7 linked regions of the Homo sapiens genome follow. The protein of the gene in region 6 interacts with the protein of the main gene of each other region in a pairwise test. Each region holds a gene or a part of one and is shown on either strand. Other genes may lie near its edges.

What was found.
Region 1: the proteins of H2AP (region 6) and CEP44 interact in binary tests that used the Homo sapiens proteins (3 or more experiments, as listed by UniProt).
Region 2: the proteins of H2AP (region 6) and CCT5 interact in binary tests that used the Homo sapiens proteins (3 or more experiments, as listed by UniProt).
Region 3: the proteins of H2AP (region 6) and CCK interact in binary tests that used the Homo sapiens proteins (3 or more experiments, as listed by UniProt).
Region 4: the proteins of H2AP (region 6) and NTAQ1 interact in binary tests that used the Homo sapiens proteins (3 or more experiments, as listed by UniProt).
Region 5: the proteins of H2AP (region 6) and LAMP2 interact in binary tests that used the Homo sapiens proteins (3 or more experiments, as listed by UniProt).
Region 7: the proteins of H2AP (region 6) and WFS1 interact in binary tests that used the Homo sapiens proteins (3 or more experiments, as listed by UniProt).

The regions. Positions count from the first base shown.
Region 1 is NC_000004.12:174,310,994-174,315,469, reverse strand, and holds part of CEP44 (centrosomal protein of 44 kDa), read right to left. Parts: intron 1-4,476. UniProt on the Homo sapiens protein: Centriole-enriched microtubule-binding protein involved in centriole biogenesis. In collaboration with CEP295 and POC1B, is required for the centriole-to-centrosome conversion by ensuring the formation of bona fide centriole wall.
Region 2 is NC_000005.10:10,252,521-10,256,996, reverse strand, and holds part of CCT5 (T-complex protein 1 subunit epsilon), read right to left. Parts: intron 2,853-4,476; coding exon 2,792-2,852; intron 2,324-2,791; coding exon 2,159-2,323; intron 1,043-2,158; coding exon 844-1,042; intron 1-843. UniProt on the Homo sapiens protein: Component of the chaperonin-containing T-complex (TRiC), a molecular chaperone complex that assists the folding of actin, tubulin and other proteins upon ATP hydrolysis.
Region 3 is NC_000003.12:42,256,835-42,260,740, forward strand, and holds the end of CCK (cholecystokinin preproprotein), read right to left. Parts: intron 1,398-3,906; coding exon 1,264-1,397; 3' UTR 992-1,263; downstream 1-991. UniProt on the Homo sapiens protein: This peptide hormone induces gall bladder contraction and the release of pancreatic enzymes in the gut. Its function in the brain is not clear.
Region 4 is NC_000008.11:123,419,052-123,423,527, reverse strand, and holds part of NTAQ1 (protein N-terminal glutamine amidohydrolase), read right to left. Parts: intron 1-4,476. UniProt on the Homo sapiens protein: Mediates the side-chain deamidation of N-terminal glutamine residues to glutamate, an important step in N-end rule pathway of protein degradation.
Region 5 is NC_000023.11:120,425,302-120,429,102, forward strand, and holds the end of LAMP2 (lysosome-associated membrane glycoprotein 2 isoform A precursor), read right to left. Parts: 3' UTR 3,326-3,801; coding exon of another isoform or gene 3,183-3,325; 3' UTR 847-3,182; downstream 1-846. UniProt on the Homo sapiens protein: Lysosomal membrane glycoprotein which plays an important role in lysosome biogenesis, lysosomal pH regulation and autophagy.
Region 6 is NC_000023.11:37,989,076-37,992,511, reverse strand, and holds H2AP (huntingtin-interacting protein M), read right to left. Parts: upstream 1,734-3,436; 5' UTR 1,673-1,733; coding exon 1,319-1,672; 3' UTR 1,198-1,318; downstream 1-1,197.
Region 7 is NC_000004.12:6,293,850-6,298,325, forward strand, and holds part of WFS1 (wolframin), read left to right. Parts: intron 1-1,191; coding exon 1,192-1,340; intron 1,341-4,476. UniProt on the Homo sapiens protein: Participates in the regulation of cellular Ca(2+) homeostasis, at least partly, by modulating the filling state of the endoplasmic reticulum Ca(2+) store.

The sequences.
Region 1 (4,476 bases), on a different chromosome or scaffold from region 6:
TTGACATATATGAAAATAAGTAATGCAAAAATTTAAGATCCACAGATTTCTTTTTCTAAAAAACGGAAAAACCTAACATTTCAAATATCCTGATAATATTAATTTGACAAAATGATGGCATCTCCCCTACAAAAATATCAATTAGAGAAGATTACGGATAATGTAATAAATCCTACAAACCCTGTGTTTCAGTCAGAATACATTTGGCTGCAAAAGCAATGCAAAAAAAAAAAAAAATTAGACACCCATTTAAATTGGTTCACATAAAGAGAGCTTTATTGTAAGCCTACACAGACAACCTTAATTGGGGAACAAACTATTACCACTGAGAACTGAAACAACTAGAAGACTAATTTTTATCTCTCATAGAGCCACAGTCTCTTTTGCCTACTTCTGCCATTTGCTCCATCCCTCAGCTCTTCTCTGTAGAATGGCTTTCTCTGCTGACTCATCAGCGTAAACTTCCACCACATGGCCAGCCCGGCCCAGGCTCAATATCATTTGACTAACTAACTCGTGGTGTCCTAATTCCAAATGCTAAGAGAGAGAATGTAATTTGACTCATCACACTTTGAACTGGAATTCTCTGGGTCAGGTGTCTACTCTTAATCCAATTAGCTAAGCCTGGAGGTCAAGATTACAGGGTGTAATTCTGAAGACTACCTAAACCCAGATCTTTTAGTAGGAGCTATGGACAAGAGGTTATTTTAAGAAATAATTTGAAATTAGGCAGGAACTATATCTACTATGCACTAAATCTTGGATTTTTTTCTGTGGGTACAGATAGTTGTCCTGAACATTTCGGACATCTTTCCAAAAAGAGGAGGGGGCCCTAGGAAAAGGAAACAGGTCCGGGAAGACAGATAAAGGGTGAAGGAATGGCTCTCTTTGTCTTCCATTTTGGGGTCCAGACTTTGCGGTGTCTAACCTTATTCAAGAGTGTGCCTCATGGTGGGAGAAAGCTGGTATTTGGCAGGCTGGCAGGCTATTCATAGTTATTCCTACAGAGGATTCCAGAGGCTACAGAGTGGACCATTACAGAACACCAGCTATATTTAATAGCCAGATCAGTTAACTGCACATTAATTTCTATATTTTTTCTTATTGCTATCCTGAACCTTTAGTAAAGCCTTACTTGTTTAAACATTAATAGTTTCTTAGCTGTGCTATAGGGGATTGAGAAAAGAATTGGTAACTGAGTTCAGGTTGGAAAGGAAAGGGGAAAGGCAATGGCCACTGACACAAGGACCCTGACACCAGTTGTTATGTACTTCAGTAGTGACTGCTAAGAAGTCTCTGTAAAGAAAGGGACTCTTCTACTTCTAAGATTATGGGGGTATGGGACATGAAATCTTCTACCCAACTCTTACCACGTAACAACTAATCTTTCACTGCCATCTTTGGAGGCTTATCACCTTATTCCACGAAGGGAATCAGTAGGGTCCTTTACCATTTAATAATTTGTAAGCCAATACTTCTAAATCAAGGACCAATGTATGTATCCAACTGATTTCTAGATATTCTGTCTTAAGGATTTCATATATAATTTATTATATTCAAAAGTGAACTCATTATTTCTCCCAAACCTTCTCCTCTTCCTGAATTTTTTATTTTATTAAAGAGTAACAATCACCTACCCAATCACATGAGCCAAACACAAGTAGTCAGTGTTACCTTCCTTACTCTCCTTCACCCTTTTTGTATCTATCAGGATCAAGGCATATCAATTTTAACATCTAAATTTCTCCCAAATAAATCACCTGCTCTTTATCCTCACTATCATTGCCTTAGTAGAGACCCTCATTATTATTCTGAAATAATGACTACTAAAATTCTCTTCAAATTATCCTTGCCTATCTTACTTTCCTAACAAATCACTATTCTGCTTTGATGATAACCTTTGTGAAACACAAACCTAAGAATATTAGCCTTGCTGAAAATCTTCCTACGACTCTGGGATAAACTCCATGACTTGATCTTTCTACTCTTCTGCTACAGCTTCCTTCAGGTGCTCACATGTACCCTTCCTGCTAGTCACACAGGAACAAACCACACTCTTCTGTGGTAGCACACCTTTTTTTTTTTTTTCCTCTGAGGGAAAAAAGGCACAAAACAAAGCGAAACAAACAAGCAAATAAAAAAGGAGCACTAACAGTTGGTGCCCTGTCTGGCAATTAACACCTAAACTACTGTACCCTCTAATGAATATAAATAATTTCATGAAAAAGAACATCACATGAGGTCACTTCATTAGCATAATGAAACAACACACCCAAAACCACCATTCATGTCCGAACATAGACAAAACAAGGGCACCATGTAACCACATAAATGAGCAGATATAGCCCCCCTTGCCTAACATGAGTACTTATTTTATGCTAAAAATTTCATTCTTACCATCAATCATCAAATTGCTCCTGCTCCCTGACAGCACCCGTAGCCCTTGCTTCCTCAAACCCTCTCCAAAATTATCCAACACAAGTCCAATCCCTAAAAGCCTCTGCTAATTCACTCTTACCAAGACATTAAGGTGCCTTACAATTCCCCATGGAACACTGTATTCCTGATAAAGGCAAAACAAATCTGGAACCTCACAAAAACTATTCCTGATTTAATATGATCCTAAACCCAGAGTAGTAAATTATTGCTCTCTGCATTCAAATGAAATCAAACCCTATTTCCAAGTAGCATGTATAAGGTATAATGTGTAAGTCTTTATAAACTTGAGTCTTTTAATTAATCTAGATCAGATCATAAACTCTATGAGACCAGGTATTCAACCTAATCATAATCTGTAATCCATTTCAGATAGAGGCCTGTTAATTACTTTCAGTCCTGGCACAGTTGTTGAAATTTAGCTATGTGAACCCGGACATGTTAACTCACACCTGTAATCCCAGTACTTTGAGAAGCAGAGATGGGAGGATTGCTTGAGCCCAGGAGTTCAAGACCAGCCTGAGCAACATAGCAAGACCTTGTTTTACTAAAAACAGTATGTAAATAAATAAAAAATTATCCAGGTGTGGTGGCACGTACCTGTAGTCCCAGCTACTCAGGAGGCTGAGAAAGGAGGATCACTTTAAGCCAAGGAGTTAACATCTAGGAGACTGCAGTGAGCTATGATTGCACCACTGCACTCCAGCCTGAGCAGCAGAGTAAGACCACACTTATCTCAAAAAAATTAAAAAATTAAAAAAAAAAAACTTAGCCATGTGTTTTCTAAATAGGTTAAAGGTATATTCTATAATCATGTCATTAAAAAAAAATAAGCCTGAGCATGCAAAATCAAACTTGAAAAAGGCAATGTTTTGCAAATCACAAGCATTCAATATTCTTTCAGTGAATAAATATTTAAACTCTACTATATGCAAATACTGGTGATAAAAGCACCGACATACTTTCTGTGTGCTAGACAGGCAGACCATAAGATAAAGTTTTTGCTCTCAAGGATCTTATACTCAAGCATTAACATTTGTTGAATAGATATATGAATGGATAAATAAAACAGGCAACATTTTACCAAATCTGAAATCTGCAGCCTATAATAAATTTAGTTGCCTTAAATAGCATCTCAAATAATTATACTTAACAAGCTAATCACTGAAATTGTTCTTTGTGCAATGATATTGATATGTGCTCCAAATATGCAGCAGTCAAGAAAAAACTTCAGATCAGTTGCCTGGATTCAAATTTGATCTACAATTCAATAACTGTGTGACCTTTGCTGTAGTTACTTAATTTTGCTGTACTTCAGTTTCCTCAACTGTAAAATATAAAAATAGTACTTATCTTGCAATGGTTACTTCAAGAATTAAATGAGTTAATATAGTAGTTAGAATCGTGCCAGGCACACTGTTAGTGCTAGAATATATATTATTTTATTGTTACACATATAGTAGAGCTGAAAGATTTTATAACGTTAACAATCCACAGATATTAAAAATTTAACTTAACGATGAATTCTCAATTGGACAAAACATCTCTTCTATAGCTATGATTTAATCATAGATATGGCACAAAATTTAGATCTTTTAAAAATACATAACAATCAAAACAAAGCTGTCACTGAAAAACAGAAATCTTACCCTTGCTGCTCAGTCACACTAAGCAAAATATCAGTAGCCTAGTAAAGTGACCAGGAAAAGACCTATCCTAATATCAGATCTTTCCCATTTTATCATTATCAGTGAACTATTCACATGGAAGAAGTTTGCAATACTTTATAGATACTGACAAATGTGTTTTCTTCTCTTACATATTATTATTTACATATGAGAAAGCTACTACCTACCTAAGCTTAAATTTAAAAACTTGGAGGCCAACATTAATATCCTAGAGCACTTGATTATTCTCGAATGATTAAAACAGTAAAATATCTCTAAAAATTTTCAATTTTGTACACTGAAATTTATTCACCCACTATGTTATGTGAAATAAGTAGGCTGGTTAGTTAAGCAATTCTTGGCTTTAGTAGTC
Region 2 (4,476 bases), on a different chromosome or scaffold from region 6:
TTGTACATAATCAGCGCACCCCTTGGCTGAGGTTGCTTAGAGTCTCCTGGGAGAAGAGCTGTGTCTTAGTGCCCATAAGACCTGGCAGTAAGCCTGGCAAACGGACATTACACGAACGCTGAAAACACCAGAGACAAGTCGCTTTCAAGACTCTCTTTACTAAATTATAATTTTGGATCGGCAATTTGCTGAATAAAAAGTGGAACCCACCCCCAATGGCTCCCCAGCAAAGAAATTATAGAAAGAAGTGTTAAGAAAATTCACATATCCTCCAGGTAGGACCCTTTCTAGTTGACTTTTTTTTTTTTTTGAGACAGGGTCTCGCTCTGTTGCTCAAGCTGGAGTGCAGTGGCATGATCATGGCTTGCTGCAGCCTCGACCTCTCACCTCAGCCTCTGGAGTTGCTGAAGTGTGTGCTACCATGCCTGGCTAGTTTTTTGTTTTGTAGCGATGGGGTCCCACTACATTGCCCTGGCTGGTCTTCAATTCCTGAGCTCAAGCAAGCTACTGCTTTGGCCTCCTAAAGTGCTGAGATTACAAGTATGAGCCACTGCATCCAGCCTTAGCTGATTTTTAACACAACCTATTCTGCTAAATTAAAATAACTATATTTTGCAAATATTGTCAAGGGGATTTATACCTGAACTTAGAAATTCAGTTCTCAACTTAAATACAAAATGCATCTGTCTACATCTACATTAAAAACAAAGCAAAACCAAGTAATCAAAACAAATAATCAAATCGATACAAATCCACCAGTGGTCATTTTGTGTTGCCTTTAAGAAATGGCAAACAAACTGCCTCCTCTACAAATGGGTAATCATATCATCTACTGAAACGTACACTTTGGAGCCCAGCGTGGTTTTTGCTGTCTGAATCAGGGGTTCGGTGTCCTTTATGTCAACAAGGACGCTATCGCTGATCTTGTCCAGGTGTTCAATAGCAACACGAGCAGCCTGCTCATAGCCATCGGCTATTCTGATTGGGTGAATGCCTCGGTCTAGCAATTGCTCCGCTTCTTCTAACAAGGCACCAGCCAGGACTGCAAATAAGCCAGCAGACAATCAGTTCAGGCAAACAACAAAACTTCACTTTTAGTATAATCAGCACAAGTTAGATGCTATCATGGAAAGAAGCAGCTTCTAGAATTAAGCTGCAAGTCATCTTAGAGGCAGAAGCCCTCTATTTTTAAAAGAAAGCCTCGTTTTAGTTCTAGCGAAGGTCGAATAGGACATGTGTCCCCTTACAGATGAACATTCAACCCTCAGTGATGTGAAGAACGTAACTAAAGAATATAATGTAAAAAGAACATTTTTCTAAGAGGTAAAAAGCTATTATGTTTCCTGGGCCAGGGTCTACTCAGTGAAATTCAGCCTGGTGATGAGACTAAAACGTGTTTATTATTTATTCCCCCCACCCCCATCCTCCTTTCTCCTCATTTTAGGGTCGCAAAGATGAATTTTGTTTAAATCTACAGCTCTCCAAGCGCACCGAGAACAGTGCTTGGCATACAATAGTATCCAATAAATATTTGTTGAATGAATTCAAATTTCATCTGCAGAAAAGGTAACCTTACTGATATTTTGTCTTCAATCTCCCCAACTTTTTAAAGATTTCAAATCTTCAGAAAAAAAAGGTACAATACTAAAACGAATACCAGTTTACTTATTAACATTTTGCCACATTTTCTCTACATGTACATACTGTTTCTGTTCAACTATTTGAGAATTAGTTACAGAAACCATGACATGTCACTCCTAAGTATTTAGGTATACAGCTGAGAAGAAGGGCATTCTCCTACACATCTGCAATATAATGGTCACAGATCACTCAGGAAACTCAGCATTGCAGTACATGATCCAAAATCAAATTCTTCCACGTTTCCCAAACATCCTTTATAGCTTAAAAGACAAGCAAAATCAGTGTCCAATCAATCATTACACATTTCTCCATGCCTAACAATCCCCAGCCCTCTTTCTGTTCTTTTGTAACACTGTCAGTTTTGAAAGTCCGACATTTGTTTTGTAGCATGTTTTCAACTTGGATTTGTCTGTCTCCTCATGCTCTGATTCAGAGACAACAATCTCAGCAGGCATGTTAGCCCTGTGGTCTTAAATGACGTCTCTTAAATGAGAAAGGATGTTTTGTCTTTTCTTACCAACCACTCCTGTGGTTCCATCTCCAATTTCATCATCCTGAGACTTGGACAGTTCCACCATCAGCTTGGCAATCTGATGATCAACATCCATCATGCTTAAGATGGTGGCCCCATCATTAGTTACAGTCACATCTCCATCCTTATCCACCATCATCTTATCAAGCCCTAAAAAACAACGTTTAGTAGGCTTTGCGCAAAAAACTGGCAACCAATATCACAAACTATAAAACAAGACCTCCTGACCCAGCTCTTATCTGTGCAATTTATTATATACAAATAATGCAACATACACAAAATAGTAGCTGCATGAAGGCATTTTTAGATTGGCTAACATAATTGGCAAAACATTATGGAGCATCATTAAGTATAATGTTAATCTCAAAAGACAACTATGATTTGGAAAATGCTAATGAAATGATGTTACATGCTAAAAAAAAAAAAAAAAAGGTCCGACCTAATATTGCACACGATTATAACCATGTTTAAGAAACCTGAAATACACTAAAAAATTTTGGCTGTGTTAAGGAAGTAAGATGCCTCCCCTCAATACTCCACCTTTCTGTAGAGAGGTTTATATTGACAGTTTTATAATTTAAATCTTTTGCTAAAAAACACGGAATGGTGGACTCTTACCATTTGGTCCAAGTGATGTTCTCATTGTATTTGCTACAGCCTTTGCTGCCATTATATGAGACTAATGAAACAAACAGAAAAAGCAAACACTGTTACATATAATTTCAATGGTTAAAAGCACACATCTGATGACTACAAAAATCACTTATGACTTAGTTTCTATTGTCTAGAAGCTTCTACATTTAAGGGGCAACAGACAGGTTTAAGTATTATAACATTTACGACTCCAGTTTTAATAAGCAATTCTTACGTAAAGAAAGAGAACCAAGTGCTTTGTGTTATCTCACTGAATTTTCAACACATTAATGAGACAGATTCTTTTACCAGCCCATTTACAGCTGAGAAGAGGGACAGTATGACTATGACCTTACAGGCGTTGCAAGACCACTGTGCAACACAGTCCTCCCTGAGCATCCATGGGGAATTGGTTCCAGGAGCCACAGTTCTCCCTGAGCATCCATGGGGAACAGGTTCCAGGAGCCCCCGAGGATACCCAAATTCACAGATGCTCAAGTCCCTTGCATCTAGGCTTGTACATCTGCGGGTTCCCCATCTGCAGACAAGGAGGGGCCTGTACTCATGAGAAACAGTCCAACTGTAAACATACAACACCTTACTGTCACACTATGATTTACTGCAGAATTGTAATCTTTTGAGCTGGATGCAGTACTAGAGCCTGCAACCCCCCCTACTTGGGAGGCTGAGGCAGGAGGATTGCTTGAGGCCAGGAGTTTGAGATCAGCCTGGGAAACATGGCGAGACCCCATTACAAAATAAAAAGAAAAACTGCTCTTGCTTTAAAAATCTTCCTCCACCCACCTGAAATCCCAATAATTATATTTATAGATCAAAGTTACTGACTGGCCTTTTTTTTTTTGAGACAGTCTTGCTGTGTCTCAAAAAGGCTGGAGTGCAGTGGCATGATCTCAGCTCACTGCAACCTCCGCCTCCCGGGTTTAAGCGATCCTCCTGCCTCAGCCCCCCAGTAGCTGGGATTACAGGCACGCGCCATGACGCCCTGCTCATTTTTTTTTGTATTTTCAGTAGAGATAGGGTTTTGCCATGTTGGCCAGGCTGGTCTTTAACTCCTGACCTCAGGTGATCCACCTGCCTTGGCTGCCCAAAGTGCCAGGATTACAGGTTTGAGCAACCACGCCCGGCTGAAACTGGCCCTCTTAAGGAAGGTAAGTAGCTGTCAAAGTGATAATAAAAAAGTTACCTGTTTTTTTTTTCACATTTAGCTACCAAATTGAGTAATAGAATTATTATTATTATTATTTTTAAGGAGAAAGCAAGAGGCAGAAAGAAAAGGATGTAAAGAATTTGGCAAATAGGAGAGATCCCGAAATCCCGAGATCTATTTTGCCCTACTGCTCGGCAACGTGGAAAAAACCTTTTTCTTCCTTCTGCTAGTTCTGTGTGTTTCCAGAGGGAAGAGTATCAAACATCAAGGCATAATACATATTATGGATAAAACAGAATTATGCTGGCTGGCCTGGAAACTTAGCCTGCTCTGTTTTAGGTTACAGGATTTTAGAATATGATTCCTTCCTAAGCCAACTAATGCCTGCACCTTTTTTTTTTTTTTTTTGAGACGGAGTCTCACTCTGTCACCCAGGCTGGAGTGCAGTGGCGTGATCTCGGCTCACCGCAACCTCTGCCTCCCAGGTTCCAGCGATTCTCCT
Region 3 (3,906 bases), on a different chromosome or scaffold from region 6:
CCGGGCTGGGTAAGGTTTTAGATTTGCCAGTATTGTTTTCAATGTATTTCCCTTGGGGGCTGCCAGGTTCTGTTGCACTAGGCACCTGGGGCCTCTGCTGGACAAGGATCAGAGGGTCTTGGAGGCCTCAGCAGGAAGCATGGAAAGGTTGCACTGGGGGTGGTGGGTACTGGATCATCTCTGGGTGTCGCCTTGGACTATTTCCCCTCACTGATTTCTACAGCGAACCAACAGACAGATTGGCTTCTGCTCTGTATAACTACCAGAGTCTCCCCAGCACTTTGGAGTCCCACCAACTCCAAAACATGGCGGGGCTCAAGGAAAAGCGATTATAGGCTCTTATCTGCACCACTGCAGCTCCAAGTGCGGTCTGCAACCAGCAGCATTGACATCACCTGGAGCTTGCTCAGGCTCCTGCCCAGACTTGTTGAATCAGAATGTGCAGTTTAACAAGATTCCCCGGGTGATTCCTGTGCACTCAGTTGGAGAAGTGCTAGAGTGATGAAGGTCCCGATAGCCTAGGAACATTAAGCCCTCCAGTCTGTGAATCTCCTTAGCTGGGGCATAAGGGGCAGTCACTTTCACTCTTCAGAGCCTGTTTCCTCATCTGTAAAGAAAGGATGATAACTTCTGTGCCACAGAGCCATGGAGTGATCAAATGTATGCAAAACCATGGCCAGTTACTGCCTGTAACTTGTTTAAAGGCCAAGAGAACCCCAAGGAAACCCTGATGGGAGTAGGATTGGTAAATAAGATCGGGGATCAGGGTGGCCAGGGCTGGGCTCTGGAGTTGCCCACAGATGGCCCTTTCACTGTCCACCTGGCCTGTAGCAAAGTTAGCTCCAAGTCTGAGCTGCATTTCCCAAGCCCTTTCTGGGGACATCTACTACAAGGATTTGTCCCAGTGTAGCATCTATCAGGCTTCCCTCCTTGCATGTTCTGAGGACCAAATGGAGCCCTTTGCCCTCAGTAGACGCAGGGAACGACAGGGCAGAATGAAATCACTTTAATAGCATAACAACATTTTCAGACCAGGAGTCACAGATGAAGAAAACATTTTGTCTTCCATTTGCACAATTCTGGTGAGGTGTGTGGTTGCACTGGACAATCTTACAGACACATTTTTCACATTGAGAACTTAATAAATAGATACATACAATGTCAAACTCCACAGACAATGAGTTATGAGTGTGATTGTTTTCTTATTCTGCCTCCTCTGGGTTGGGAGGTTGCTTCCCGTTGGGCTGATGGCGGCTGGGTCCTCTAGGAGGGGTACTCATACTCCTCGGCACTGCGACGGCCAAAATCCATCCAGCCCATGTAGTCCCGGTCACTTATCCTGTGGCTGGGGTCCAGGTTCTGCAGGTTCTTAACGATGGACATTCGTCCAGAAGGAGCTACAAGGAGCAGGGAGGAAGGAAACAGGGACATTGCATCTAAAAGCATCTCTAGTTCAATTTGGGAAGGAGAGCAATGGAAAAAGCCAGACGCAATATAACAGACACCACCTTAAAGGTATCAAAGAGCTATCAAAGTAGTGGAACTGATGGACCAAAATCTGAGAGAGGAGAAGGACCAATGTCTGTGTAACTGGAGAGAGGACAATATATTTACAAGTTAGGGGTGTGCTTTGCGTTCTGCAAGTATTTAGGTGGATTCATTTTCTCTAGCCTTGCAGTCTGGGGACTTGCCTAGATTTTCCTTAGTCTCCCTACCGTTTGCTTTCTTTTGGTAGATGGGTGTTTTCCTTTTGTAGATGGCATCAGCAGAAACCAACCAAAGATTTTTCCAGTACTTAATTGTTCCTAAATTCATCCCTTAATATCCATCAACATTCCTGACTCCTGGAGAGCTCTTGTTATTAAGGTGGCACAATTATAATATCTTGATGTTGGAATGGTTAAAAAAAAATCGTTGGTGGGAGTGTAAATTAGTTCAACCATTGTGGAAGACAGTGTGGCAATCCCTCAAGGATCTAGAACCAGAAATACCATATGACCCAGCAATCCCATTACTGGGTATATACCCAAAGGATTATAAACCATTCTGCTATAAAGACACATGCACATGTACGTTTACTGCAGCACTATTCACAATAGCAAAGACTTGGAACCAATCTAAATGCCCATCAATGATAGACTGGATAAAGAAAATGTGGCACATTTACACCATGGAGTACTATGCAGCCATAAAAAGGATGCGTTCATGTCCTTTGCAGGGACATGGATGAAGCTGGAAACCATCATTCTCAGCAAACTAACACAGGAACAGAAGACCAAACACCGCATGTTCTCACTCATAAGTGGAAGTTGAACAATGAGAATACATGGACACAGGGAGGGGAACATCACACACCAGGGCCTATCGGGGGGTGGGGGTTAGGGGAGGGATAGCATTAGGGGAAATACCTAATGTAGATGACTGGTTGATGGGTGCAGCAAACCACCATGGCATGTGTATACCTATGTAACAAACCTGCATGTTCTGCACATGTACCCCAGAACTTAAAGTATAATAAAAAATAGATAAATAAAGCTCCTTTGCTACATAAATACTCTTTTAAAAATATGAATTTGAAAGTTATATTCAGAAAGCTTTTGTCATTTATCAGTAAGTGTTTTGAGTTGATGATCATTTTATTTTTAATGATAAATCAATATCAATTAAAAATGATATTCAGAAAAAGACTGTCGGATTAAATCTTGGCACCTCAGTAAGACTCAAAGAAGGGGGGGAGAGAGGTGATAACAAAGGTGATTTAAATCAGCAATTTTGACCAAAATGCAATAACTGAACCTGAAATTGTCCCATTGGGATGGAAGTTAAGTCTTCAGGAACAGTGTGATCCTTTTGTAGAGCTCACACTGAGTGAGCAGGGACATGAAGAGGCAGTTTATTTGGAGACATGAGACAGTCCTAGCTCAAAGTTCATAGACAGAAGCCTCCTGGGGTATGAAATCAGCAGAACACCTTCTCCTGTGCAAGCTCAGTCTTAAGAAAGGCCCTTCAGGGACTTCAATGGACAAAGCCCAGGCCAAATCAAGGGTAGAGGAGTGGAGGACCACTCAATGACTCCCACTGTGTTGGGGGCCACTGTATCCCCACCTCCTGTCATGCTGGTCTATATCCCTTCTGCATGAGGCTGCCCTTGCCAGCTCCTACCCATAGGCTGAGTAGAGTCAGACTATGGCTTATGTGTTGATAAATGAAAATGCAAAGGCAGTTACCCTGGGTAATGAAATTAAGCAAGTTTAATTAAAAACAGAAACAACACAGAACAACGTCCCCACCCTTTCTCTCCCCAACCCCAACCCTTCCCAGTTTTGGAACCAACAGTCAATTCAGCACATTTCAGGTCTTTTTGCAGATATCCTCAGCCTACGTAGAAGAAAAATAGCCCCTGCTATTTAATTGTTCATCATTCAGGTGAAATATTACCCTTGAATTCAGGAAAACCTATAGACCCAGTTACCTGTACACAGTCACATGGAAACATGACCCATCCTTCTGCCTGCTGTGATGATGAGTGCCCACTCTAAGGCCTGGGCACAACCCAAATTTCCATCTAATGGAAGCAAGGTGACAGCTTCAATACGAGCAAGCAGCCTCAGTTAACGGTGGGGGCACCATGTTCAGTCATGGAAGCTGCATTTATCACACACCCTGACTTCCCCGTTCCACGTACAGTTCTGTCCTCATGTCATGTGTATTTACCAGGGTCCTCACTCACTTTCCCAGTGCTGACATAGAGTAGGGGCTTACATCTGATGTATGGAATTGATCAAAGCCTGATTCCTATGGGCCACAAGAGATGGACGGGCCTCCCTCTGAATCACACAAAGAATTGGAAGGGGCTTATTGGAAAGCTAGCCTCGGGACTGTCTGCATGTCACTCAGCTAGTGGGC
Region 4 (4,476 bases), on a different chromosome or scaffold from region 6:
GAGGTGGGAGGATAACTTGAGCTCAGGAGTTTGAAACCAGCCTAGGCAATGTAGCAAGACCCTCCGGAAAGAAAAAGAAAGAAAGAAAGAAAAAGAGAAACAGAAGAGAAGGAAAAGGAGGGAAAGGAAGGAAAAGGAGGGAAAGGGAGGAAAAGGAGGGAAAGGAAGGAAAGGAGGGAAAGGAAGGAAAAGAAAGACAAAGAAAGAAAAAAGAAGAGAAGAGAAAACAAAAGAAGAGAAGGAAGGAAAGAGAGAGACAGAAAGAAAGGAGGGAAGGAGGGAGGGAAGGAGGGAGAGAGGGAAGGAAGGAAGGGAGGGAGGGAAAGGAAGGAAGAGCAAGCGAGTTGTGGAAGAATTAGAAGAAACTATTCTAAAACTCATATGCACCAAAAAAGAGCCCAAACAGCCAAAACAATCCTAAGCAAAAAGAACAAAGCTGTAGGCGTCACACTACCCAACTTCAAATTATACTAGAAGGCTATAGTAACCAAAACAGCATGGTACTGGTACAAAAACAGACACACGGACCAATGGAACAGGTTAGAGAACCCAGAAATAAAGCCGCATATTTACATTTACAACCATCTGATCTTCAACAAAGTCCAATAACAAGCAATGGGGAAAGGATTCCCTATTTAATAAATGATGCTGGGATAGCTGGCTAACCATATGCAGAAGATTGAAACTTGACCCCTCCCTTTCACCATATACAAAAATCAACTCAAGATGGATTAAAGACTTAAATGTAATACCTAAAACTATAAAACCCTAGAAGAAAACCTAGGAAATACCACTCCAGACATAGGCCCTGGCAAAGATTTCATGATGAAGACTCCAAAAGCAACGGCAACAAAAACAAAAATTGACAAGTGAGACCTAATTAAACTAAAGAGCTCTGCACAGCAAAAAAAAAAAAAAAAACTATCAATGGAGTAAATAGACAACCTACAGCCAGGCATGGTGAGGCTCGTGCTTGTAATCCCAGCACTTTGGGAAACCCAGGCAGGAAGATCACTTGAGCCCAAGAGTTCAAGATGAGCCTGGGCAACATAGAGAGACCCTGTCTCCACAAAAAGTAAAAAAAATTAACCAGGCATGCTGGCACACATCTCTAATTTCAGTTGCTTGGGAGGCTGACGTGAGAGGATTACTTGAGCCTGGGAGGTCAAGTCTGCAATGAGCTATAATTGTGCCACTGCACTCCAGCCTGGGTGACAGAGTGAGACCCTGTCTCAAAAAAAAAAACCCAAAACAAAAAACAGACTACCTACAGAATGCAAGAAAATATTTGCAAACTATGCATCTGATAAAGTCTAATATCCAGAATCTATAAGGAACTTAAATAAACAAGCAAAAAACAACCCCATTAAAAAATAGGCCAAGGACATGAACAGATACTTCTTCTCAAAAGCAGATAGGCACAGTGGCTCACATCTATAATCTCAGCACTTTGGGAGGCCAAGGCGCGTGGATCACTTGAGGTCAGGAGTTCAAGACCAGCCTGGCCAACATGGTGAAACATTGTCTCTATTAAAAATACAAAACTTAGGCTGGGCGCGGTGGCTCACGCCTGTAATCCCAGCACTTTGGGAGGCCGAGGCAGGCGGATCACGAGGTCAGGAGATCCAGACCACGGTGAAACCCTGTCTCTACTAAAAAAAAATACAAAAAATTAGCCGGGTGTGGTGGTGGACACCTGCAGCCCCAGCTACTCGGGAGGCTGAGGCAGGAGAATGGTGTGAACCCAGGAGACGGAGCTTGCAGTGAGCCAAGATCACGCCACTGCACTCCAGCCTGAGCAACAGAGCAAGACTCCGTCTCAAAAAAAAAAAAGAAAAGAAAAATACAAAACTTAGCTGGGCATGGTGGTGCACACCTGTAATCCCAGCTACTCTGGAGGCTCAGCTGGGAGCATCACTTGAACCTGGGAGGCAGAGGTTGCAGTGAGCCGAGATCGAGCCACTGCACTCCACCCTGGGCAACAGAGTAAGACTCCATCTCAAAAAAAAAAAAAAGGAAAAAGAGACATGCACATGGCCAATAAGCATATGAAGAAATGCTCAACAACACTAATCATTAGAGAAACGCAAATCAAAACCACAATGAGATACCATCTCACTCCAGTCAGAATGACTATTCTTAAAGTCAGGCCAGGTGCAGTAGCTCACATCTGTAATCCCAACAGTTCGGGAGGCCAAGGCAGGAAGACTGCTTGAGCCCAAAAGTTCAAGACCAGCCTGGGCAACATGGCACAACCCCACACTACAAAAAATATAAAAATTAGCTGGGCATGGTGGTGCACACCTGTAGCCCCAGTTACTCGGGAGACTGAAGTGGGAGAATTGATTGACACCAGGTCGAGGCTGCAGTGAGCCATGATTGCACCACTGCACTCCAGCCTGGGTGACAGAGTGAGATTCTGTCTCAAAAAAATGAATAAATAGGCCGGGTACGGCAGCTCATGCCTATAATCCCAGCACTTTGGGAGGCCGAGGCAGGCAGACCAAGAGGTCAAGAGATCAAGATAATCTTGGCCAACATGGTGAAACCCCGTCTCTACTAAAAATACACAAATTAGCTGGGCATGGTGGTGCATGCCTGTAGTCCCAGCTACTTAGGAGGCTGAAGCAGAACCGCTTGAACCCAGGAGGCGGAGGTTGCAGCGAGCCTAGATTGCACCACTGCACTCCAGCCTGGTGACAGAGTAAGAATCCGTCTTAAATAAATAAATAAATAAATAAAAATAAACAAATAAAAATAATTTAAGAAGTCAAAAAAGTGGTGATGCCCACCTGTACTCCCAGCTACTTAGGAAGCTGAGGTGAGAGGATCACTTAAGCCCAGGAAGTTGAGGTTGCAGTGAGTCATGATCATGCCACTGCACTGTAAGCCTAGGTGACAGAGTGAGACCCTGTCTCAAAAAAAAAAAAAAAAAAAGGCAAAAAATAACAGACGCTGGCAAGTTGGTGGAGAAAAGGGGATGCTTATACACTCCTGGTGGGAATGTAAATTAGTTAAGCCACTGTGGAAAGCAGTTTGGAGATTTTTCAAAGAACTTGAAACAGAACTATGATGCGACCTAGCAATCCCATTACTGTGTATATACCCAAAGGAATATAAATCCTACTATTAAGACACATGCACATATATGTTCATCACAGCACTATTCATGATAGCAAAGATGTAGAATCAACCTAGGCACCTATCAATGGTGAACTGGATCAAGAAAATGTGGTATATATCATCCACCATGGAATACTACACAGCAATGACAAAGAACAAAAATCATGTCATTTGCAGCAACATGGATGGAGCTGGAGGCCAATATCCCAAGTGAATTAACACAGGGACAGAAAAGCAAACACTGAATATTCTTGCGTATAAGTGGGAGCTAAACCTTGAGTACACATGGACACAAAAAAGGAAACAGTAGACATGGGGCCTACTTGAGGGTAGAGGGTGACAGGAGGGTGAGGATCAAAACTATCTATCTGGTAGTATGCTCACTATCTGGGTGACAAAATAATTTGTACACCAAACCCCCAACACATACACTTTACCCATGTAACAAACCTGCACATGTAACCCCAAATCTAAAATAAAAGTTGGAAGGGAAAAAAACTCAAACAAAATATGTGATTGGATAATATCTGAAATGTTCTTTAAACTCTAAACAAAAGCATAAGGGACTCAAAAAAGGGAGAGAGGGAGGGAGGGAAGAAAGGAATGAAGGAAGGAGGGAGGGAGGGAGGGAAGAAAGGAAGGAAGGAAGGGAGGGAGGGAGGGAGGGAGGGCTGTGGATTTGCCCCAAGCTGTCAGCTGATCATCTTGGCAGCAGAAAGGTTGGGACACTCCAGGGGTTCCCAGTGATGAGCTGAGGTCAGAGATGCATGCAGATGGGGAGGACCCCTGGCACAAAGCAGGCACTCCACAATTGTTTGAAAAACACAAAACAATTAAGTCAGAATCAGAAATGCTCTGCTGACGACACAGTCCCAAACAAATACTGGCTGCCACTATTATCATTAAGCAGGGTCTTGAAGCGTAAGTAACATCTGGAAGCTAACATGACGGAAGCTAACAGAAGTAGACAGGAGGCATTCATTTCAACTTAAAAAACCTGCAGGATGGCCGGGCACGGTGACTCACACCTGTAATCCCAGAATTTTGGGAGGCTGAGGCAGGTGGATCACCTGAGGTCAGGAGTTCAAGACCAGCCCAGCCAATGTGGTGAAACCCCGTCTCTACTAAAAATACGAAAATTAGCTGGGCATGGTGGTGGGTGCCTGTAGTCCCAGCTACTCAGGAGGCTGAGGCAGAAGAATGGCTTGAGCCTGGGAGGTGGAGGCTGCAGTGAGCCAAGATGGCATCATTGCACTCCAGCCTGGGCAACAGACTGAGACTCTGTCTCAAAAAAAAAAAAAAAAAAAAAAAAAAAAAAAAAAACCCCCAAAGCTGCAGGAGCCAAAGTAGTGT
Region 5 (3,801 bases), about 82 Mb from region 6:
AATACATGCAGACAGTAAAAACAAAGGAAAGGAAAAACATTTCATCAGAATTCTAAAGGCAGTTCTGGCATTCAAAAAGTATACACATTGAAGTTAAAAAGATGACCCTCCAAGTTGACTTTTTAGATACACTGTAACCCTCACAGCAACATATATCGAACCACTCTTCCTAATTATCAGTCAACTTAAAGTGCTTCTTTCAGAGGCCTCATGAGGTGGCAGTTATGAAGGCCATTTTTTGACTTAATTACAAGCTATTAAACGTCTTTCAGAAAATGAAACCCTATTATTCTGGAACTATGGAGGGAGCCAATGTCTAATTCCTTCTCCCACCAAAAATACCTCTCATGTAAAAAGGAGTATGTTTATGTATGTGTTGTTGTTTTATCCAATTATATAAAAATTAAGCATTAGACTAGATTGTAAGGAATTTAAAGGAAATTCACAAAATGGATAGCTCCTCCCCTTGCCCCACCATATCCCTGAGGTATATCTCACTCAGAATGAAATGAACTTCAACAATTAGTATAGTTCATCAATGCAGACAGACATACGCGGAAAGTACGTTTGTTATGATGTTCTTACATTTGTTAGATTTCCATATTTTGTTTTTGATGTTTTCTTGTAATTTCCATGACTAAGTAGGTCCCCCTATTTGAGGTGTCTGTACTAAAGGTTCTGTACTAGTGCCTTCCTAATGACGGGACTTGGTTAAGTTGCAGATCTATGAGATCCTATGATTCCTGTTGACAATCCAAGAGACTAGAATTCAAGAAACTTAGATTATACAATTAAGTCTAAGCTCTTAAGGCTGAGCATATGGAATAAAAATGAGGTTATCCATAGTGGTATGGAATGTATGATCTTTATTAATTTTTAATCCATCAATCTAAAATCACACATACTAGATCAAACAGAAGTACCACAGTATGCTTTATTTTGCAGGTATTAATTGGTTCTCTAAATCGATACATCCAAAACTTTAGTTAGCAGCAAGCATCAGTTCTTCCAAAGCAGCTTAGGTGAAAAACAATTGTTTACATTCACCAGTTCAAAGTCGTACTGTCTGATCCACTGTTGTATTGACATAAAATTGAACTCAGTAGGCAAAGCTAATTGAACACTCAGCTCATAGATTTTGAGCTTCCTTTATCTTATTGGAGTTGAAGCAGTTTTTAACCCTCTGTTAATATTCTCTATTTTAATTCTCAAAGAATTAAACACACATATTTTCTAATTAATTAAGATAGAGCCATGATAACTATTGAGGAATTAGTGATATTAGTCTCATACCCAAAAGGTAGAACACTTTTAAATGAACCCATAATTTTGAATGTATCTGAATTTCCAGTTTATATGCTTAGCAAGGTCACAAGCTGATTTTATTAATCTGGCTTCTAGATAATCATCTCAAAAATATGTATTGAAACAAAGCCACTGTTTTTTATGATGACATCATTTTAACCAAATGCTTTTATAACAAATAAGCAGTTGTTCTCAAAAGAGAACATTTTAAAAGAAAACATTCTTTACATACTTAGCAAATAGAGGAGAGTGTGAATCTGTATGTCAGAGCTATAGAGTTCTAGAGGAGTTGTAGTTGAGCAATCTAACTTTCTACTCCAGTTTTTGAGATGTACATGTTTTTGAGATGTACATATAGAGAAGGCAGTAAAGAAAGATCTTGATAAATTTTCTTTAACAAAAATTTGTAATTCCAGTTATTGGCAAAGGGTTCTGGCATGAGTTAATGGCAGCAATACAGTGGTGAGCTTCTGCATTGTGCTGAGAGGTAGATTGGGACTTAATCCTTGGAATGAATAACCAACTCACTTTATTTAAGGTTCAGGCTTAATTTTTTTAATCCAAAAAAAATTTCTGAAGTGAAGGCAGATCTTTGGGAACTTTTGTTTTTAGTTAAATGTAGAGATAAAATAGCTTGATAAAATAAACATCTGCCTTATACTAATGACAGGTGTACAAAGCAGCCATTTGAACCCTAGACAACTTCAACACTGCTTCCAAATAAAAGGGCAATTCAACAGCTGAACCAATCAAGCAGACACAGGGATGAGTGGTCTCCAGTACCTTACTCCAGAAGCCGGAGCCATTAGCAGTCCCTACAGGGATATAAGTCTATATCAAGATCAACAAATGTACAGAATAATCTTAGTCCAGCTTTGGCTAGGCAGGCATCTGACTGATGACATATCAGGGCCCACTAACCTCTAGAGTAAGCACTTGTTGCTGTGAGAAAAAAGAAATCAATATATTAAAAATATCAACTAGAGCATATTCACATAGGGAATGGGAGAGTGCAGGAGGCACACAAACAAAGTATATAGAGTTTTTGTTTTCAGTGCAGGATAAATGAACCTTCTTAACAAGTTAAGGCTCTGAGGGAAAAAAACTTTCTAAACCATAACCTTAATAAACCATAACCCATACAGGTGTTCCAAATCAACACCTTTTTTAAAAAAAGCTGGAGGTCTTACTTCATCCTTCAGTATAAATGTCAAGTCTGAGATAATCAGTATATTCCAAACTCTAGAACAACAACAACAAAAAAAGAAATCTCCTTGTTAAAATATAGTAGCTATTAACAGTAATGAAGAAGACAGCCAAACTTTTGCTATTAAATACAATATCATGAAGCCATTTCTTTCTTAACTAACAGAAAAATACAGATTTAAATAATGCTGATCAGGAGGTGGGGAAAGGAAGTCTTATCATGAACCAAATTTCGTGTCTGCCACCAATGAAAATGAATCCACTATGTTCTTGAATTTATTTCCTGAAGCAAGTTAAATTCTTTAACACCTTTGATTTTGCAAATAACATCAAAGTAGTAAAATATAAGTAACTGTAACATATAAAATTACACATCAGCAAAAATGCTTTCATAATTGGATCCAGGGGCTTAAAATCATTATTTACTTAAAAAATTCTAAGCCACAATTTTTCTTTTAATTATACTTTAACAAAGGAAGAAAAAAAACAGAAAAAAATTGGTCCTAATATATTTTGTCTTAAATAAGTGTACTCATGCCCAAGTTAGCTAGGAACTCACTGAAGTTAGTCTGCATATCTTAAACAATCTATTGCACAGCATGTCCTGGCTTTTAGCCAATGGAAACGTAACTTCTAATTGAAAAAAACAAACAAACACTAGATTTAACTGATTACACAGACTGATAACCAGTACGACTTTTCCTTCTTCCAATCATATAAGAGATAAAGACAACAATTATAAGGAAGCCCAAGGCCACACCCACTGCAACAGGAATAAGAAAGTTGAGGTCAGAGTCAGCAGAACATTCTTCAGCTGTTAGAAAAGAACAGACAGCAAGGAAAGGAAATTAGCAAAGAATGCAATTAAGTAGTAAAAAGCATGCAAGAAACATGCATTTTGAAAGTGTACATAGCTTAGTTTTTTATAGCATTACCTCTATTTTCTTATTTGCTCAATATCTCATTATCACTTTATCTAAAATCACACGAAATTCCTCAGTACGAAAAGCAGAAGGTAAGGGAAGAATGGGAAGGGTCCAAAATAGAGAATTGCGCTTGCCTAATATGGGAAGACTTTAGGTTTGATTATCTAATGACACTGGGTTAAGGAGCCATCATCTACACTTAAAACCACTGCCTGTGTATTTCCCTACTCTCTTTCTCTTCGTCACACCTATAATTAAAGTATAAATAAGAATTCTGTATAAGTAATAAAATTTAAGTTAAAAAAGACTTAGGATCAAGAATGTAGTATATATATACATATATATGTGTGTGTATATATATGTG
Region 6 (3,436 bases):
ACACATGAGGAGGACTGCTCAGAGGGAGTAATTGAAGGTCTAATATCACATGTCCAGGAAGTGGTGAACTGGGATCTGAAACCCAGGCCCGCAGCTCCCATTGTTGGAGCCGGCTGTGCAGCCTCTGACCAACCCTCTGTGAAAGGCCAGCAGGCAGCAGACTGTGGCTCCCAAGGACCCAAGGAAGAGGTGGAAACCTAAAATGTGGGCACTCACAGGCAAGGGGACAGATTGCTACAACACTTGATGTGACACCTCTTTTAAACTTAGCACAGAGCAGGAAGTTTTGAAAAGGATTGCATGTGCTTTAGAGGCCGCCACTTGGGACAGAATTATTTCTATACCTCTTAAAACATGGATTGAGTCACTAATAATCCTTTGGTGCTCTATGCAATATATGGTAATTATAATGAATAAGTATTCAATTTAAAAATGAAATTGTTAATCGTGTTTTAAATGAAATACATTTATAATTAAGCTGATTCATTAATAATTAACAACCATTAAGAACTTCTTGAATTGCCCATCTTAGGCCAGATCATAAATTTTATATATTCTTTTGATTTATTTTACCAGTGTCCTGAAGAGAGGACAAAAAGATATATTCACAGCACTAGCTAATAATCCCTGTCTCAAATCCGCTTTCATAATAAGGCAGGGCATAAAGAAATAAGAAATGAAATCCAGCAGGCCATCATTTCTTTTTTGCATTTTTCATGATGGTTTCTCCTTCACTCTTCAATCTCCATGTAAAGCCCCTGTCCCATGAACTTCATGCCAGCCAGTGTGCCCCTCTCCACCCACCCCTGTGGCCACCGCCCTCTGACTTCAGACCTTTGCTATCCTGAATAAAGCCTCCTGCACCTCAGTCAGAGTCTGCAGCTCCACCTCAGGCCCCAGCATCAGGCTGGGAATTCAACAAGCCTCAGAGGCCCCCAGCCAACTCCCTGGCCTCACAAGGCCTTCCTGTTCAGAGACAATGAGGAAGTCTCGGTGTCTTTATCCCAGCCAGTTCCTCCCCACAGGGCCGGCGCCCTCACTGTCACCATTGGAAACTGCCCCCTCTAAATCACTGATTCAAACACCACACTGGCCACCCCTTCCCCGCCTTCAGCTCTCTGGGGATAGCTTCCCCTGGATGTCTTACAGACACCTACAACCCAAAGCGACAGAAACTGAGAGGAGTCAGAAACATACTCATGGATTTACATCCTTTAATAGCACTTGTTGATGACAACAGCAGATATTCCTCAGCTGTGACACATTTTTGCCCTGGCTAAGCCTGTGAGGTTCCCTTCAAGGCTCTGGGACCCAGTCTTCAGTCATTCTTCCTGGATTTGGGCATCTCATCAAACAAAAAGCGAGTCACATCACTCTCAGCGCTGTGGGGCTCACGGTTGTTGTCCACTTCTCTCTCCCTATCTTGTGAAGTGTTGCGCATACTGCCATTGTTGCTGGCCTCCAAGCCTACCCGCTCCATGATGTAGTCAGCAAGGCAATCGAGCAAGGTAAGGAGGGTATTTATTGTGGAGGAACTCTGGCTTTGGACGTCTCGTTCATCTTGCACAACGCGGTCCACGAAGCTCCTAGGGACCTGTAGCTCATTTCTAGAAGGGTCTTGAGTCTGGTTGTTATTTGTAGACGAGTTCTTACAGTTCTTTTTCTCTGACATGATGTTTGCTGGGTTTGGCTCTCATCAGCTCTGCTTGATTCTCTAGCTCAAGTAGGTCTCTGAGGACACTAGTGCTTAGTCCTGCCTATTGTATCCCTCTGCTCCAGGCCCTTATTGGTCAGGGAGCTAGCTGCCTTTGTGACATCCCTAGACTTTGTGATTTCATTGGTGTCCACTGGTCCCTTATCAGACCTCAGCCTAGAAATGTCTATGACACTGATCTAGTCACGCTAATGACTGAACCTTGATTTTGAGGGAACTATAACTCTCTACCTGATTTTGACATTATAAAAATAAATGTGTGCTTCAGTGGAAAACTTTGCTCTGTCTTTAGGACACCACTGCAGGTTATCTGATTCCAGCCTTACATTATCTGTGAAGTCTTTTATAGCCTTTTGTTAGTTGTAGGCTGCTGATACATGTACAGCATATTCTTTAGTAGAGGTTCGGTTGTTCTTCACCTTATGAAACCAGTTTTGCCTCCATTTACACAATCATTTAATATTACTGATGAATATTCCCATATCAACTCTTTGGTTTCCCTTTTGAAGCAGTCATAACATCTTTTTCTTTTAGCATGTGTTCATTTCATATCTGTATGAGTGTCATGATTTTACCCCATTTGAAAAATATATTTTAGTCATTTTTCAATTAATAATAAGATGCTCAGCCGGGCGCAGTGGCTCACTCCTGTAATCCCAGCACTGTGGGAGGCAGAGGTGGGTGGATCACAAGGTCAGGAGATCGAGACCACAGTTAAACCCCGTCTCTACTAAAAATAAAAATAAAAATAAAAATAATTAGCCGGGCGTGGTGGCGGGCGCCTGTAGTCCCAGCTACTTGGGAGGCTGAGGCCAGAGAATGGTGTGAACCCGGGAAGTGGAGTTTGCAGTGAGCCGAGATCGTGCCACCACACTCCAGCCTGGGAGACAGAGCGGGACTCGGTCTCAAAAATAATAATAATAATAAGATGTTCAATAAGTTTACCTGTCAGTGCCAGGTAAACAGTTGATAGAGAAGTGCATCTTGTGCTCAGTTTAAGCCCAGATGTGTATTTCTTGTCCCTCCTAGGTGAAGCCAAAGCACTAAGAGATGTTTCTTTTCTATTATTTAATTTTCTTCTCTACTAATTCTGTGTTTTCCCTTTGACTTTGGTTCATTTACAGCCAATAACTTTGCCATTCCACAAGGGAAAAAGTGGAAAGAAAAAGGAGTCTCAAATCCAAGCATTTTCAAAATCCAACCATTAGGTTTCAAGGCCTGAGAATATTCTAAGGCTTGAGACTCCTCCCTTTGATGACTCTGATCCTATGACTTCACCTGGGGTCATAAATCTGCCCTCTGGCCTCTAGGTTCTGCCCTCAGTCATTGTTCCTTTATTTTGAATGGTAGCATATGTTTACAGCTGAGTAGTTTTATCAGCCTGCTTCCTCCTGTCAAATTTTGAGAGTCCTGTAGACTTCTTTCATTTCTTCCTCTATTTGTCCCTTTCAGTCTAAGCTGGCATTGTTTCTGCTGATATAACATTGTCAAAAACTTACAGGCCTTTTATGTATGTCATGGGGATTCATGCCATTAGACAAGAGGCTTCTTCAAGATCCCTCATAGAAAATCCCATCTCTATTCCTTGCTTATTCTGAGAAGCACACCCCATATCTCTTCAAAACACCATCTATGTGATTGAATACTTTGATCTTTTGATCCCTTAAAGGCACTAACAAAAGGATGTCTAGCCACGCCCTTGATTTTATCTCTGGAGGATGA
Region 7 (4,476 bases), on a different chromosome or scaffold from region 6:
GCAAGCCCCCAGCCCGCCCAGGCTGCATCCAGCCCGTGCTCCTTCCACATCTCCTGTACCTGGCTGTCCCATGGTCACCTCACAGCTCAGTCTACAGTGAGCTACTGAGGCCTGTGCTACCTGCCACTTGTGTGGGCCCCCCCAAGGCTGCCTCATCTCTTTGCTGCAGCTACACCTGGGTGCTGCCCCGACTCCTCTCCTCTTGCACACACAGCTGATCCATTAGGAGGTCTGTCAGCGCCCACTATCACGGCTGCCATCTTGGATGCAGCCTGCCTCCTCCCTAGGGTTTCTGCAGCACCCTGGCTTGTCTCCCTCTGCCCTGCCCCAGCATGGTCCTTTCTTTCCCATCCTTCCCCTGGAGGCCCTCCTGGTCACCATCTCACCACGGCAACTGGGGTCCTTCAGGGGCCTCATTCCCTCCTAGGGGATCATGTTGGATAGAGGGGTCAGTGGGCACGTAGCTCTCGCGGATCACGTTGGATGGAGGGATCAGTGGGCACGTAGCAGGCTCTTGGTGGAAGATGTTGGATGGAGGGGTAAGTCGGCCCATGGCAGGACGCATGTTGAATGGACGGGTTAGCAGGCATGTAGTAGGCCCATGGCAGACACTTGTTGGATGGAGGTGTCAGCAGGCACATAGTAGGTGTGTGGCAGATCATGTTGGATGGAGCGGTTTAGCAGGTGCACAGTAGGCCCTGGGTGGATCACGTTGAATGGAGGGGTTGGGGGCGCAGATCATGTTCGATGGAGCGGTTGGCAGGGTACTGCCCTACAGGGCGGCTTGTCACCCGTGCTGTGAGAAGCCCCACGCTGGCTGAAGAGGAGGGTGTCAGCATGCACTGGAGGTGCATGTTGTAAGGCTTGGCAGGTGAACTGGGTGAAAGGTGTGGGTGAGTGGCCCCAGGCATAAGGAGCTAGGCAGAGAGGGACACTTGGGGTGGGGGACAGCACACCCAGGGGCCGGGGGCCAGGAGTGGAGGCTGGCACTTGGCAAACCTGCCCCCTTCCTCCTCACCCAGCCTGGTCCTCAACCCTCAGGCCGCCCAGGGAAGGGTTTCCTCCACCTGAACCCACTCAGCTCCTTTCTTAGCTTGGCCCCACGCCACCGTCCCCAGCCCATTGCTCTGTGTGAGGGTGGCAGTGGGGCTGCAGTGTGGGGCGCCCATGCTGTTTTCTCTCATGCTTCAGCCAAGAACTACATCGCGCTGGATGACTTTGTGGAGATCACTAAGAAGTACGCCAAGGGCGTCATCCCCAGCAGCCTGTTCCTGCAGGACGACGAAGATGATGACGAGCTGGCGGGGAAGAGCCCTGAGGACCTGCCACTGCGTCTGAAGGTGAGTGACCAAGACCCCGGTCAGGCCGGAGCCTGCCTCCCAAGGACTCGCGCACCTCAGGCAGGGCACCTTCCAGGAAGCTGCAGGTGGGGAGGTTCGCGCCTAACAAAGAGTGTCTTACAGCCGTGCCGCTGGTACCTTTGGGTCATCATCTATCGTCATAAGGATGTGTCCTCGGGAGAGAGGCCTTTCTTTTCTGCGCCGTCAGGCTCAGAAACCAGGGGCGGTGTTGGGCAGGAGTGCTAGGATGGCAAGCAAGGGGCCCCTGGGTCTTTCTGTGCAGTGTAGGGGGCAGTGGGGCGGGCTGGACGCAGACTTTCATCTAGACTTCATCACTTAGCAGATTTCTCCATGTATGGTCCAGAGTGGAGGCCAGTGCCTTGAAGATGCCTTCCCCGAAAACAAAGTGCCGTGTCCGTCAGGCCAGGGAGGACGTGCAGAGGCGCCTACTGCCCCTGGATCTGCAAGGGCTCAGGGAGCGAGGCCAGTGTGGGAGCGTGGTGGGTGACACTTGTGCAGGGTGCCATTGGGCACACCTGGAGGACATGAGCAGCTTTGGCGGCAGGAGGAAAGCGGGGAGCGGGGAGCGGGAAGCCCAGCAGTGCGGGCCCTACTCCTGGCCTGACAGCTTGTTTTCTTGGCCATGTGGCCCTATGGCCTCTCACAGAGTTGCTCACAGTTCAGCTCGCATGGTTGAATTAGATGTGTGCCTGTCTCACTCTGCAGAGAACACCAGGATTTCCAGAAGCTTGGCCTCCTGACCCAGGATCCCCAAGCTGAGGCCAGCACAGGGGGCCCCAGCAGATGATTGTCACAGAGGCTGCGGGCAGTATCATGCAGGCACCCTGGGGTTCTGTCTTCTGAACTGACTGAGAACCTGGAGGAACTGCCATCATTGTATTCAGATGGGCGCGTGAGTCAGGGCCAGGACCAGGAGATGGTTGGGCCACCAACTGTCAGGCAGGCAGCAGGCTGAAAGGTCACCGTCCTCGAGCCAGGGAGAAGGTCAGAGTAGGCCCGCCCTCCGGTGGGGGGGAAGAGCAGGAACCCAGGTGCTGCAGGAGCAGCTTCAGCCCAAAGAGCAGCAGGCACAGCAGCCCTGCTGCAGGGACTCGGAGCCAGACAGGTCTGAGTGTGAGCCCCCCGAGTGCCCAGAGCTGCGAGTCCTTTAGGGTGGCAGGTGGAAGGCTCTGCTCCTCCCACTTGGGACAGGCTGTATGTCCAGGGTATGACACCGACCGGTCTGCAGAGGTTCTGAGACATGGGCCAGGATGGCCAAGAACTTGAACCAAGGGAGCACATGGTTTTTACTGATGGTCTGCTCAGAGCTGGCCCTAGGCAAGCATATTCACAGATTGGGTGCCATCATCTCCTTACTAATGGGAGATGAGGAAGCTGGGGTGCTGGCATGGTTTTGGCAAAGACACTCCCGAAATGAGAGTGAGGGTCACAGGTGAACGGGTTAACTTGGAGAAGACCCTTGGGCCAGGCGGCCATGGCCCAGGTGTCCCAGTTTATGCCATCTGGTGTAAGTACTATTATAATAATGCCTCCTTGCATATGCGTCCTGTTCGGAAAATTATGTCACCTAGTTATGGATGGTGAGTCTAGTGTTGTGTAGCATCTGAAAATCCTATTTATTTATGTTACTTAATGACAGGGTCTCGTTCTGTTGCACAGGCTGGAGTGCAGTGGCACGGTCACAGCTCACTGCAGCCTCAACGTGCCAAACTCAAGTGATCCTCCCACCTCAGCCTCCCAAATAGCTGGACTACAGGCATGTGCCACCACACCCAGCTGATTTTTTTGAAAACATTTTGTAGCGATGGGGGTCTCACTATTGTTATCTACGCTGGTCTCAAACTCCTGGGTCAAGCGAGCCTCCCACTTTGGCCTCCCACACTGCTGGGATTCAGGCGTGAGACACTGTATCCAGCCTGAAAGTCCTTTTTAGAAGGGAGAGATTTAAGCTGTTTTGACAAGAAGTAAACAAGACTCTGTTTCCCTTTAGTTTTGGATGCTGTCAGAGCACTTCGATTCCTTTGCAGTTTGTCTTCTTAGAAGTCTCTTGTGAGGGAGGCAATGAATCGTCACAAGCGTCTCCCAGGGCTGAGAGCTGTCCCACCTTTTAGTAGCCTTTTGTAGAACAAGGAGAGGTCTTCACTCAAAGTGAAAATGACAGACACCTCTTTGTGAGCCACCCTTACTCCCACAAAGAATGTTCCAGACTCCACACAGTTCTCTTCTGGAGCCTGGAGGTGCAAGCTGTCATCGTAGATAGAATCCTCTGAAAACAAACTTAATATCTTAAAATCGTAACATTTTTAACATTACATAATTGGAAGATCCGACACGGGAACATTTTTGCCCACAGGTTTGAGCAGAATCTCGTCTCGGCTCCCTTCCCCAGCCTGCCTTCTTCACGGGTCCGCTGGGCCATCGGTGTGGTGACGCTGCTTCCTGGTTTCTCGTGGCAGCAGAAGGGCCGATCACCACAGGCCCAGACAGAGAGCTCTGCAGTGTTCTATTCATAGAGGCAGACTCCTCATAGTTTTTAAGTTTCGTTCTTTTTCCATCTCAGGAGTTGAATTTGTTTGGACCTTCTTTGCAGAAAAGGAGACTGAACTTTTTAATCCCATGTCAGAGGAAGGTCTTGGGTGTACATTGCAGGGAGCAGAAATTGGGGCTTTAAAAAGGGGATCGTTCCCTGGTCATCGAGTTCAGGTGGGGGACCAGCCCCTCCACACTGTCCAAGCAGAGGCTAGACGCCATCCAACGTAATGTTCTAGAATATTCCTTGTCTTTTAAAGGCCCTCTCAACCAGGTGGTTGTGTGTGTTCTAGGCAAAAGAATGTGCATGGCTTTGAGTAAGACAGGATTTCAGATTTATTTTTACCAAGGCCACCCCCTTGCTACCGTGGCGGTCGTGCGTGAAACTGGTGGTGAGCAGTGGCGGGCCAGGCCACCTTTAGTTGTCCTGCTGTTCGCAAGGCCCCCATACGGGGATTAACTGAGCAGCCTGCCGGCTGACGCACATGTTGACTCGTGTAGCTGTTGATTTTAGCCAGCTGGCCTGGCGTCATACTACAGGGGCTTGCCCCAAACAAACCCTGGAGTAGGTTGGTTTTCATAAATG